Homo sapiens: one gene and its partner. The protein of the gene in region 1 interacts with the protein of each later gene in a pairwise test. Each region holds a gene or a part of one and is shown in the gene's direction. Other genes may lie near its edges. The genes, in order: OSTF1 and HES7.

Region 1 (3,807 bases):
TTGTATTTTTAGTAGAGACAGGATCCAGGCTGGTCTTGAACTCCTGACCTTGTGATCCACCCTCCTTCGCTTCCCAAAGTGTGGGATCACTGTGCCTGGCCAAAGTCTGCACTCTTAACCATTTGCTATTCTGCCTTAAGTCATAGTGCTCCATTCACACTGGCGGTCAAATGTGTATTTTAGAGCTGGTGGTCAGGAAGTCGAAAGGGAGGGGCCTCTGGTCTACAGACTTTCTTGTCACAAATGCACATAAAGGTCAGCCCCTGGTTGACAGCAAGGAGAGTGGTGTGGAGCTTTACTTTCTTGTCCTGCAGGCAAGCTGCATGGATAAAAATCTCCAAAGACAGCATGGGATTGGGGGCTTTGGGGTTGTATTTAATTTTTTGGTTTGTTTAAACCTTGCCTCATTCCAAAAGGACTTCTAAAAATACACATGATCTGAGAGAGAGGAAAAAGTAAAGATAAAGCATGGTCATCTAGAGGAAGGGAAGAATAGTAAGATGAAACAAGAGGAAAAGCTAGCTTACAGACAGACCTGCATGTGTAGTAAGGTCACTGTAGATTTGGCTCTCAGCTGCAAGCAGAGAGAAAAATCTCAAGATTCATAGTGCTCATAAAATTAAAATGTGTCACTTACTCTGAAAAGTAGTTATTTTAATGGCATTGAGATCTGAGACAGATTTTCCTGTGGGTTCTCTTAAAGTATTGGAGTGGCCTGGATATCTCTAGCAGAAATACAAGACAGAACATCCTAGCCATGTTTCTTACAGCTTCTTTCAGAGCAAGATTTGGGCAAAACAGCATGGCTCAATTCAGTAGACAATACTAAAAGGAAAGGAGCTAGGTGAGTAAGGACAAAGGACTTGCTGGAAGATATTAAAAACAAGGGACATTAAGCTATAATGCAGGCTAATAGCATCTTTCTGGCTGATCAGCACATCCCCAACAGGGGGCCGATTTGTGGAAGGAGGCTGCCCAGGGAAGTCCCGGGCAGATGCTAGTGGGAGACCCTGGCCATTTTTGTACCATCTGGAGGATAGATCAGGGTTACCTTGTTTGGGTTTTTGGCCATATCCAGAATTCATTTGCTAAACAAATGTTTCTTAATAAATGTAGCTCATATATTAGGCCCTGTGCTAGACACTGGGGTTCCCAGGAACAATAATCTATGGTGTCATTCACGAGGGTCCTGAGTCTAATGGGGAAGACGTATGTATCTACAGATATTACCTAGAGTATCCCATATTTACAAGTGGATGGCTGATCTCATTCATTTTGTTTTTTTTAAAAAAGCTTGTAAGTAAAAATATAATTTTTTTATTTTTAGAAAATTTAGAAAAAGGTAAACAATAAATATATAACTAAAATATAGGAATCATCCCTGTCATCTACTGATAATCACTATTTACATTTGGTTGAATATTCTTTCAGGTTTCTTTCTTCTTCACATCCATTTCATTTCAAAAAAGAAAATAAAAACAATTACCCTCAGAACAGCGTCTCAGCTTCCGTTTGAAAAGTCTTGCTGTTGGTTGGCATATGTTTCCAAAAGGCTATACGGTATTGCCTGCATTCTGCTTGAAAAATCAATTCTGTCGCAGTTTGACCTTTCCTTGCTTACTGATTTTGTTTCTGTAGAATCACTTTTGGCCACACAAGGTCTGTCATTGAAACTTTCTCCCTTAACTGTTATCTGTGCCACCATGGTACTCTACTAAGATGTGTTGCAATTTCGTGGTCTTCAGCTCATTCTTTATGATACCCTCTTTCTTTCTTTCTTTCTCTCTCTCTCTTTCTTTCTTTCTTTTTTTTTTTTTGGAGATGGGATTTTGCTATGTTGACCAGGCTGGTCTTGCTCTCCTGTGCTCAAGCAGTCTTCTTCCTTCCTGAGCTTCCAGAGTATCTGGAATTATAGATGCTCACCACCAAACCTGGCTGAGACCCTCCTTTCCTTTTTCTGAATGAGTACAACCTCTTAGTTTTACACATATAGCATTTATGTTGTTTTCAGCCACTCTCAGAAGCCTTGCAGTTCAATTAGCGTGAATCTGTCTGGCTTGTTAGAGTGTAGAAGTGTAGAAAACAGAACTTTTGTTCTTGTAAAATCTTTTTAAAAATATTTTATTCTGAGAGTAAGAATGGGCCAAAGGATACTGAATGAGATTTGGGCTGTAGAATCATCTCATTCTAAGCAGGTTTGGTAACTATCTATTGTAGTTGGAAACCTGGTGTCTGACCTTGGCCATTTTTTCCAAATGGCTTATTGATTTTGGTGGTGAAAGTAAAGCATAAATATTTCATGTGCCTTGTGAAAATAAATTCATGGAACTTTGAAGAAGCAAATGTCAGTGTTTCAGGTTTTTTTGTTATTCAGAGTAAAAACATCATAAAACTTAAAAGACATCACACGCATGCTGCTTAAATAACATTTTTGAGAAAAAAAGGTTTTTATCTAAAATGAACTTAATTTTTATGTATTTTTTACCCCAACAAAGGAATTAATCAAAAGTGAGGTGAAATATGCACGTGAATAGTCTTCTTTTATAAACTTGATACTTTTTATACCTGTTGGCAGAATAAAGCCTGAGAAACATCTTGAAAATTTCACAATGATGATGATGATGGGAATGGTTAACATATATTTGGCCCCATATGTCAGGCACTGCACCCAGCACTGTGTATGCTCTGTCTCCTTTAATTATTCTGACTTTCCTATCAGGTGGGTGGGTCCTCATATCCCTGTTTTATGGATGAAGTAGTACTTAATGAGGTCAAGTAAACTATCTAAGATCTCAAAGCTAGTGAGTGGTTGGTGTGACCTGGAAGTGGAACAGAAGCTTTAATTGAGTCCATGCATATGAGCAGAGAAACCTGCCAGAGATGTTATTGGGTTGGACCTGCTTTTGTTGGACAGTCATTTTATTAGCTTATGCAGTTGTATTATTGGTATTTGGTTTGTGTAACTGCCCTCTTTCAATGGATCCGTATTAGAGCATTAAACTATGCACTTTTTGAGAGTGGAACAGTCTTTTATTTCTTTGTAACTGCACAGCCACTAAATCGTTATGAATGACAGATAATGTAAAACGCTTTGATACAAAAAAAAGGTGGGTTTTTTTTTTTTTCCCTGAAAGAAGGTGGGGGTGGACTCAGAGACTGTGATTGGGCTTTTCTTGTAGCTTTACTACAAAGTAGCAAAGGCTGGAGGTTATGTGCTTCTGATAAGCATTCCTCCCTTCTGGAAATACTGGGGTCCCCTCCCTTGGCGTTTCAGCATTCCCACAATTTGACTTACGTGACTAGTGCAGTGAGATTTTCTAATACACACCTTATACCTCAGGGCATAACAGAACCCATTGCCAAAGTTGTCCTCACTTGCTTAATGGACAGGGAAAGACTACATTAAAAAAAAAATGATACAGGGACACCTTTCAGTGGGCTGATATGAGTGAGGTGTCAAGATTCTCTTATCAAATTAAAGGAGTTTCAGAAAAATGTACAGGCCAGGCACAGTGGTTCACACCTGTAATCCTGGCACTTTGGGAGGCCCAGGCAGGCAGATTGCTTGAGCCTAGGAGTTTGAGACCAGCCTGGGCAACATGGTGAAACCTTTTCTGTACAACAAATATGAAAAAATTAGCTGGGCTTGGTGGTGCGTGTTTGTAGTCCCTGCTACTTAGGAGACTGAGGTGGGAGGATCACTTGAGCCTGGGAGGCCAAGATCGTGCCACTGCACTCCAGCCTGGGTGACAGAGCGAGACCCTGTCTCAAATAAACAAACAAACAATACAACACAAATATTAGAAC
Region 2 (4,279 bases), on another chromosome or scaffold:
GGCTTCGTGACAAAACCAAGGTGCGGAGGGCCGTTGGGAGGGCTTGAAGGAAACCCCATTGGTCTCTGATTTCACAGCTGTCTTCCGTCTCGGTCTGCAACCCTGTCTTTCCGTGTCTTTATCCCTGGCAACCTGGCTGTTCCCTTCAGTTTCTGATTTATCTTCTCAGACACTTTGTCCTGAAGCCCTCGAGTGGTCAGGCATCGTTCTGCGGAGGGTCATGCTCTTGGTTTGAGGTGGGTGTTGATCCCTTTTTTGTACCCCTTGCTTTCCCCTTAGTAAACTGCCTGCTCCCTGCTACCCTACAGTCACCAGGGGCCTCCAGAAGCAAGCAATGCGGGCACACTTGCGTGAGGTGTCCTATCAGCCACACTCCTGAATCTCCTATGACTAGTTTTGAATCAAATACTTGTACTGTAAGTGGAAAGACCTCTCCACTCATACCTATGTTTCAAAGACTTGCTCCCTCTGCCTTGAAGATCCTCCTCAGTCCAGCCATCCTTAAGGAGACCTTTTCCCGGAGCACCTACTTCACTGGGCTTCTGTAATAGCTACTTGGTGTCACATGGTCTTTTCCATTAGATCCTGCAGGGATAAGCTGGGTCTCTCCTGCGTATCTCACTATGACTCGCCCGAGCCTAGACAAGTGCCCTGTCCGCAGAGTGGGCGCGCAGATGTTCGCGGACTTGAATGTAACTGGCTTAGATAGAAGAGAGCGCCTCTCCAACCTCCCGGCAGAGCTTCGGTTGAGTCGGACAGATTCACCCAGCGCACTCGGGTTGCTCCCTGTCTCGACTAGGAAGCGAACTTCGGAGATGATGTATAAAATTCAGCCTGGGGGCTGAGAGGTGCTAACTTCTATTTCAGGGTTAGTGAGGGTACAGTAAGCCTCCCAGAAAGCTGCAATTCTGGAGGAACTCTGAATTTCATCCCCAAGCGAGCTCTGCCCCAATAGCCTCCTCCTTTCAGCTGGGTCCCGCCTCCTTATACAGCCTTACGGTCTGTAAACCAGCCAGTGCCCCCATTCACCCCTCACTTCCCGCACTCCCAGGCCAGTTTCTCTCCTTCCCCTCCCCCCTTCACTCCTCCTCTTTCCGGGAGCCTCGTGCCGGGTCCTAGAGGGGCAGAATCTGGATGTCGAAGGGGGCGGGGTCGGGTCCTATCCCTCCTACCCTTGGGCCGCGGAATATAAGGCTCCAGGCGAGCAGGGAACCGGTCCACACAGGGTCCGGAGGAGCAATGGTCACCCGGGATCGAGCTGAGAATAGGGACGGCCCCAAGGTGAGAGGCGGGAGGGGAGGGAGCAGAGGTCCCTGGTTTGGCTAGGGGACTGGGCCCCTGACGCCGTCGGTCTGGAGAGAGGCTGGGGACGCAGGGGTGGAAGGGGAGCGGTGCTCCAGAACTCCAGGAGCCAGAAGCTGGAGAGGAAGCTGCAAAATATGAAGAAGGGGACAGGGGTCAGAGCCAGACCTGAGTGGGCGGCGGGAACATAGGACTAGGGGCCTCGGTAATGGGTGTCGGCACCTTGTGGCCTGGGGAGGGGGCCGGTGTTGGAGTAAAATAAGCAATTAGAGGGCAGAGCCAAGGGAGGAGGGTGGGAACGAAAAGAGAAGAGGATAGGCACTTGCTCCACTCTGGCTGTGAGCCGGGCGGGGCTGGCCCAAGGCGGTCTTGTACAGAAGGTCCCGGGGCGTTGGTTCCAGAGGCCCCAGACTGGTGGAAGATTTTAGGAGAACCGTGGAGAAGGTGAAGGCCTGGAGGGTTTTGAGGGAAAAGAGGCGGCGCGGTCGCGCTAGGTATCTCCCTTTCTATACTCAGGGCCGCCAGGTCTGAGCCCGGCACCGTGCGGCGCACGTGCGTGCGCGCAGAGAGTCCCCAAAGTTCTCCACTGAGACAAAGAGAAACTGCACCAGACGGAGACGTAGAGAGAAAAGAGGAGGAGAGACACAGAGAGGGGAGGAGGGAGGACGAGACTGAGAGAGGAGAATGCGAAGATCCGGGGAGGCGAGCTACAGAAACTGATCTAGGGGCATTGGGAGGGGGAGCGGAGAGGGATCGAATGGGGCCGGCCCTAGGCAATCTGGGGTCTTGTGGCCGGGGTGGAAGCCGGGCTCTCCCAGCGGCGGGATCCGACGCCGGGGCGGCCGCACTGAGTCTCGGTCTGGTCGGCCCGCTCTCCTTTTCTCGCTGGTCGCAGATGCTCAAGCCGCTTGTGGAGAAGCGGCGCCGGGACCGCATCAACCGCAGCCTGGAAGAGCTGAGGCTGCTGCTGCTGGAGCGGACCCGGGACCAGGTCAGTCCCTCCGCTAGCCCTAGGTCCCCAAGCTTCCCGTTTCCGCGTCCCAGGGCTTCCCACTGGGGTGGGGACACAAGCTTGGTTGGCAACCCTGGCCCCAAGGCATCCTCACCCGAGTCCCGCCTTTGGAATTCCATCCCAGACCCCCACTCGCTCTCAGAACGCGATCTTCTTCGCCACCCCTCGGGTCTGTAAGTTTCACGCCTGGTTCTGTAAATTTCGCTCCCGGGGTCGGTCAGTTTCACCCTTTGGGTCTCTAAGTGTCCGGTTCCCCCTCCCCCACAGCCAGCCTCTGATGAGCCAGCCTCTGTTATGTCGGGTGGTTAATTTCATTCCCTGGGTTGCGGTTTCAAATCTCCTCCTCACGCGTTGGGCATTGGTTCCAACCCCTAGGATTGGACAGTTTCGTCTCAGGGTGGGCCAGGACTTTCCTTGGTCATCTCCACTCCGCATTTGGTCGCGCGTTCTGTGGGCAGTGCGCAAATGCGATCGGGGGCACCACCAGCTCCCGCATCCGTCCCTCCCTTCTTCCCCCTGCCACTTTCCCCCTTTCTCCCCACCCCTTTCTGTCTCTGCGCCCTCCCCTCCCGTCTGTAGAACCTCCGGAACCCGAAGCTGGAGAAAGCGGAGATATTGGAGTTCGCCGTGGGCTACTTGAGGGAGCGAAGCCGGGTGGAGCCCCCGGGTACAGCGCGGGGGTGGGGCAGCGGAGGGAGGGAGGGGGGACGCCAGGAGGCTCCGGCCGGGGCAGAGTGGGCGGGCCCTGCGGTGGATGGTGGGCTTGGGGAGTGGCCGGTTCTGCTCCGAGGCGAGGTTAATAACACCCGCGCGTGTCTGTCTCTGTGTCTCCCTCATTTTCTCCCTCTTTCCGTCCATCTGGCTTCCTGTCTCTGTGCGCCTGTCCGGCCTTGGTATCTCTGCGCCCCGCCCCTTCCCTCACCCCTGCCGGGCCCCTGCCCTGCCCACCTGTGCTCCCGCCGGCCGCACCAGCCGCCGCGGCTCCAGGGGTTCCCCGGTCCCCAGTCCAGGACGCCGAGGCGCTCGCCAGCTGCTACTTGTCCGGTTTCCGCGAGTGCCTGCTTCGCTTGGCGGCCTTCGCGCACGACGCCAGCCCGGCCGCCCGCGCCCAGCTCTTCTCCGCGCTGCACGGCTATCTGCGCCCCAAACCGCCCCGGCCCAAGCCGGTAGATCCGAGGCCTCCAGCGCCGCGCCCATCCCTGGACCCCGCCGCACCGGCCCTTGGCCCTGCGCTGCACCAGCGCCCCCCAGTGCACCAGGGCCACCCTAGCCCGCGCTGCGCATGGTCCCCATCCCTCTGCTCCCCGCGCGCCGGGGATTCTGGCGCGCCGGCGCCCCTCACCGGACTGCTGCCGCCGCCACCGCCGCCTCACAGACAAGACGGGGCGCCCAAGGCCCCGCTGCCCCCGCCGCCCGCTTTCTGGAGACCTTGGCCCTGAGCCTTGGGGGGTGGTGGGGGCGGGGTCTAGGGGTGGGGTAGAGACTCCAGCCCGAGGGCAGCAGAGGGACCCGGGCGTCCGGGCGAGCAGGTGTTGGGGAGGGCAGTGGGGCGCGCGGGCTCAGCGCGCGGGTGAGATGTGGTCTATATTAGAGTATCTATATAAATATATATTTCCCTGGTTCCTGTCCCTTTTCCCTGCCCCAACTTCTCCCTTGCGTCTAGGATTGTACTCTCTCTGCCCCTCAGCCCAGTCCCAGTCCCTTCCCGAGTCCCTAGTGCATGGAATAAAGTGGTTATTAAATCCCCGTGTGTCCCCGAGCCAGGGGCCTGCCTTTATCTCGACGTCCACGCCCACTTTCCCTTCCCTTCTGTCTCCCACCCTCAGTCCTGCTCTCCATGGCCCAAGCCCCGGGGCAGACAGGTAAGTAAAGAAGAGAGCAGAGCGGGAACTGAGATCGAAATTGAAACCAGGTGGAAAGAGAGAGATAGGGTAGGGGGAGAAGGGATGGGGGCCTTTAAGAAAA

Evidence for each region.
Region 2: the proteins of OSTF1 (region 1) and HES7 interact in a two-hybrid assay, tested with the Homo sapiens proteins (one large-scale study listed by BioGRID).

The regions. Positions count from the first base shown.
Region 1 is NC_000009.12:75,091,261-75,095,067, forward strand, and holds part of OSTF1 (osteoclast-stimulating factor 1), read left to right. Parts: intron 1-3,807.
Region 2 is NC_000017.11:8,121,045-8,125,323, reverse strand, and holds the start of HES7 (transcription factor HES-7), read left to right. Parts: upstream 1-1,217; 5' UTR 1,218-1,239; coding exon 1,240-1,281; exon of another isoform or gene 1,282-2,059; coding exon of another isoform or gene 2,060-2,197; coding exon 2,198-2,293; intron 2,294-2,438; coding exon of another isoform or gene 2,439-2,893; coding exon 2,894-2,981; intron 2,982-3,286; coding exon 3,287-3,753; 3' UTR 3,754-4,279. UniProt on the Homo sapiens protein: Transcriptional repressor. Represses transcription from both N box- and E box-containing promoters. May with HES1, cooperatively regulate somite formation in the presomitic mesoderm (PSM).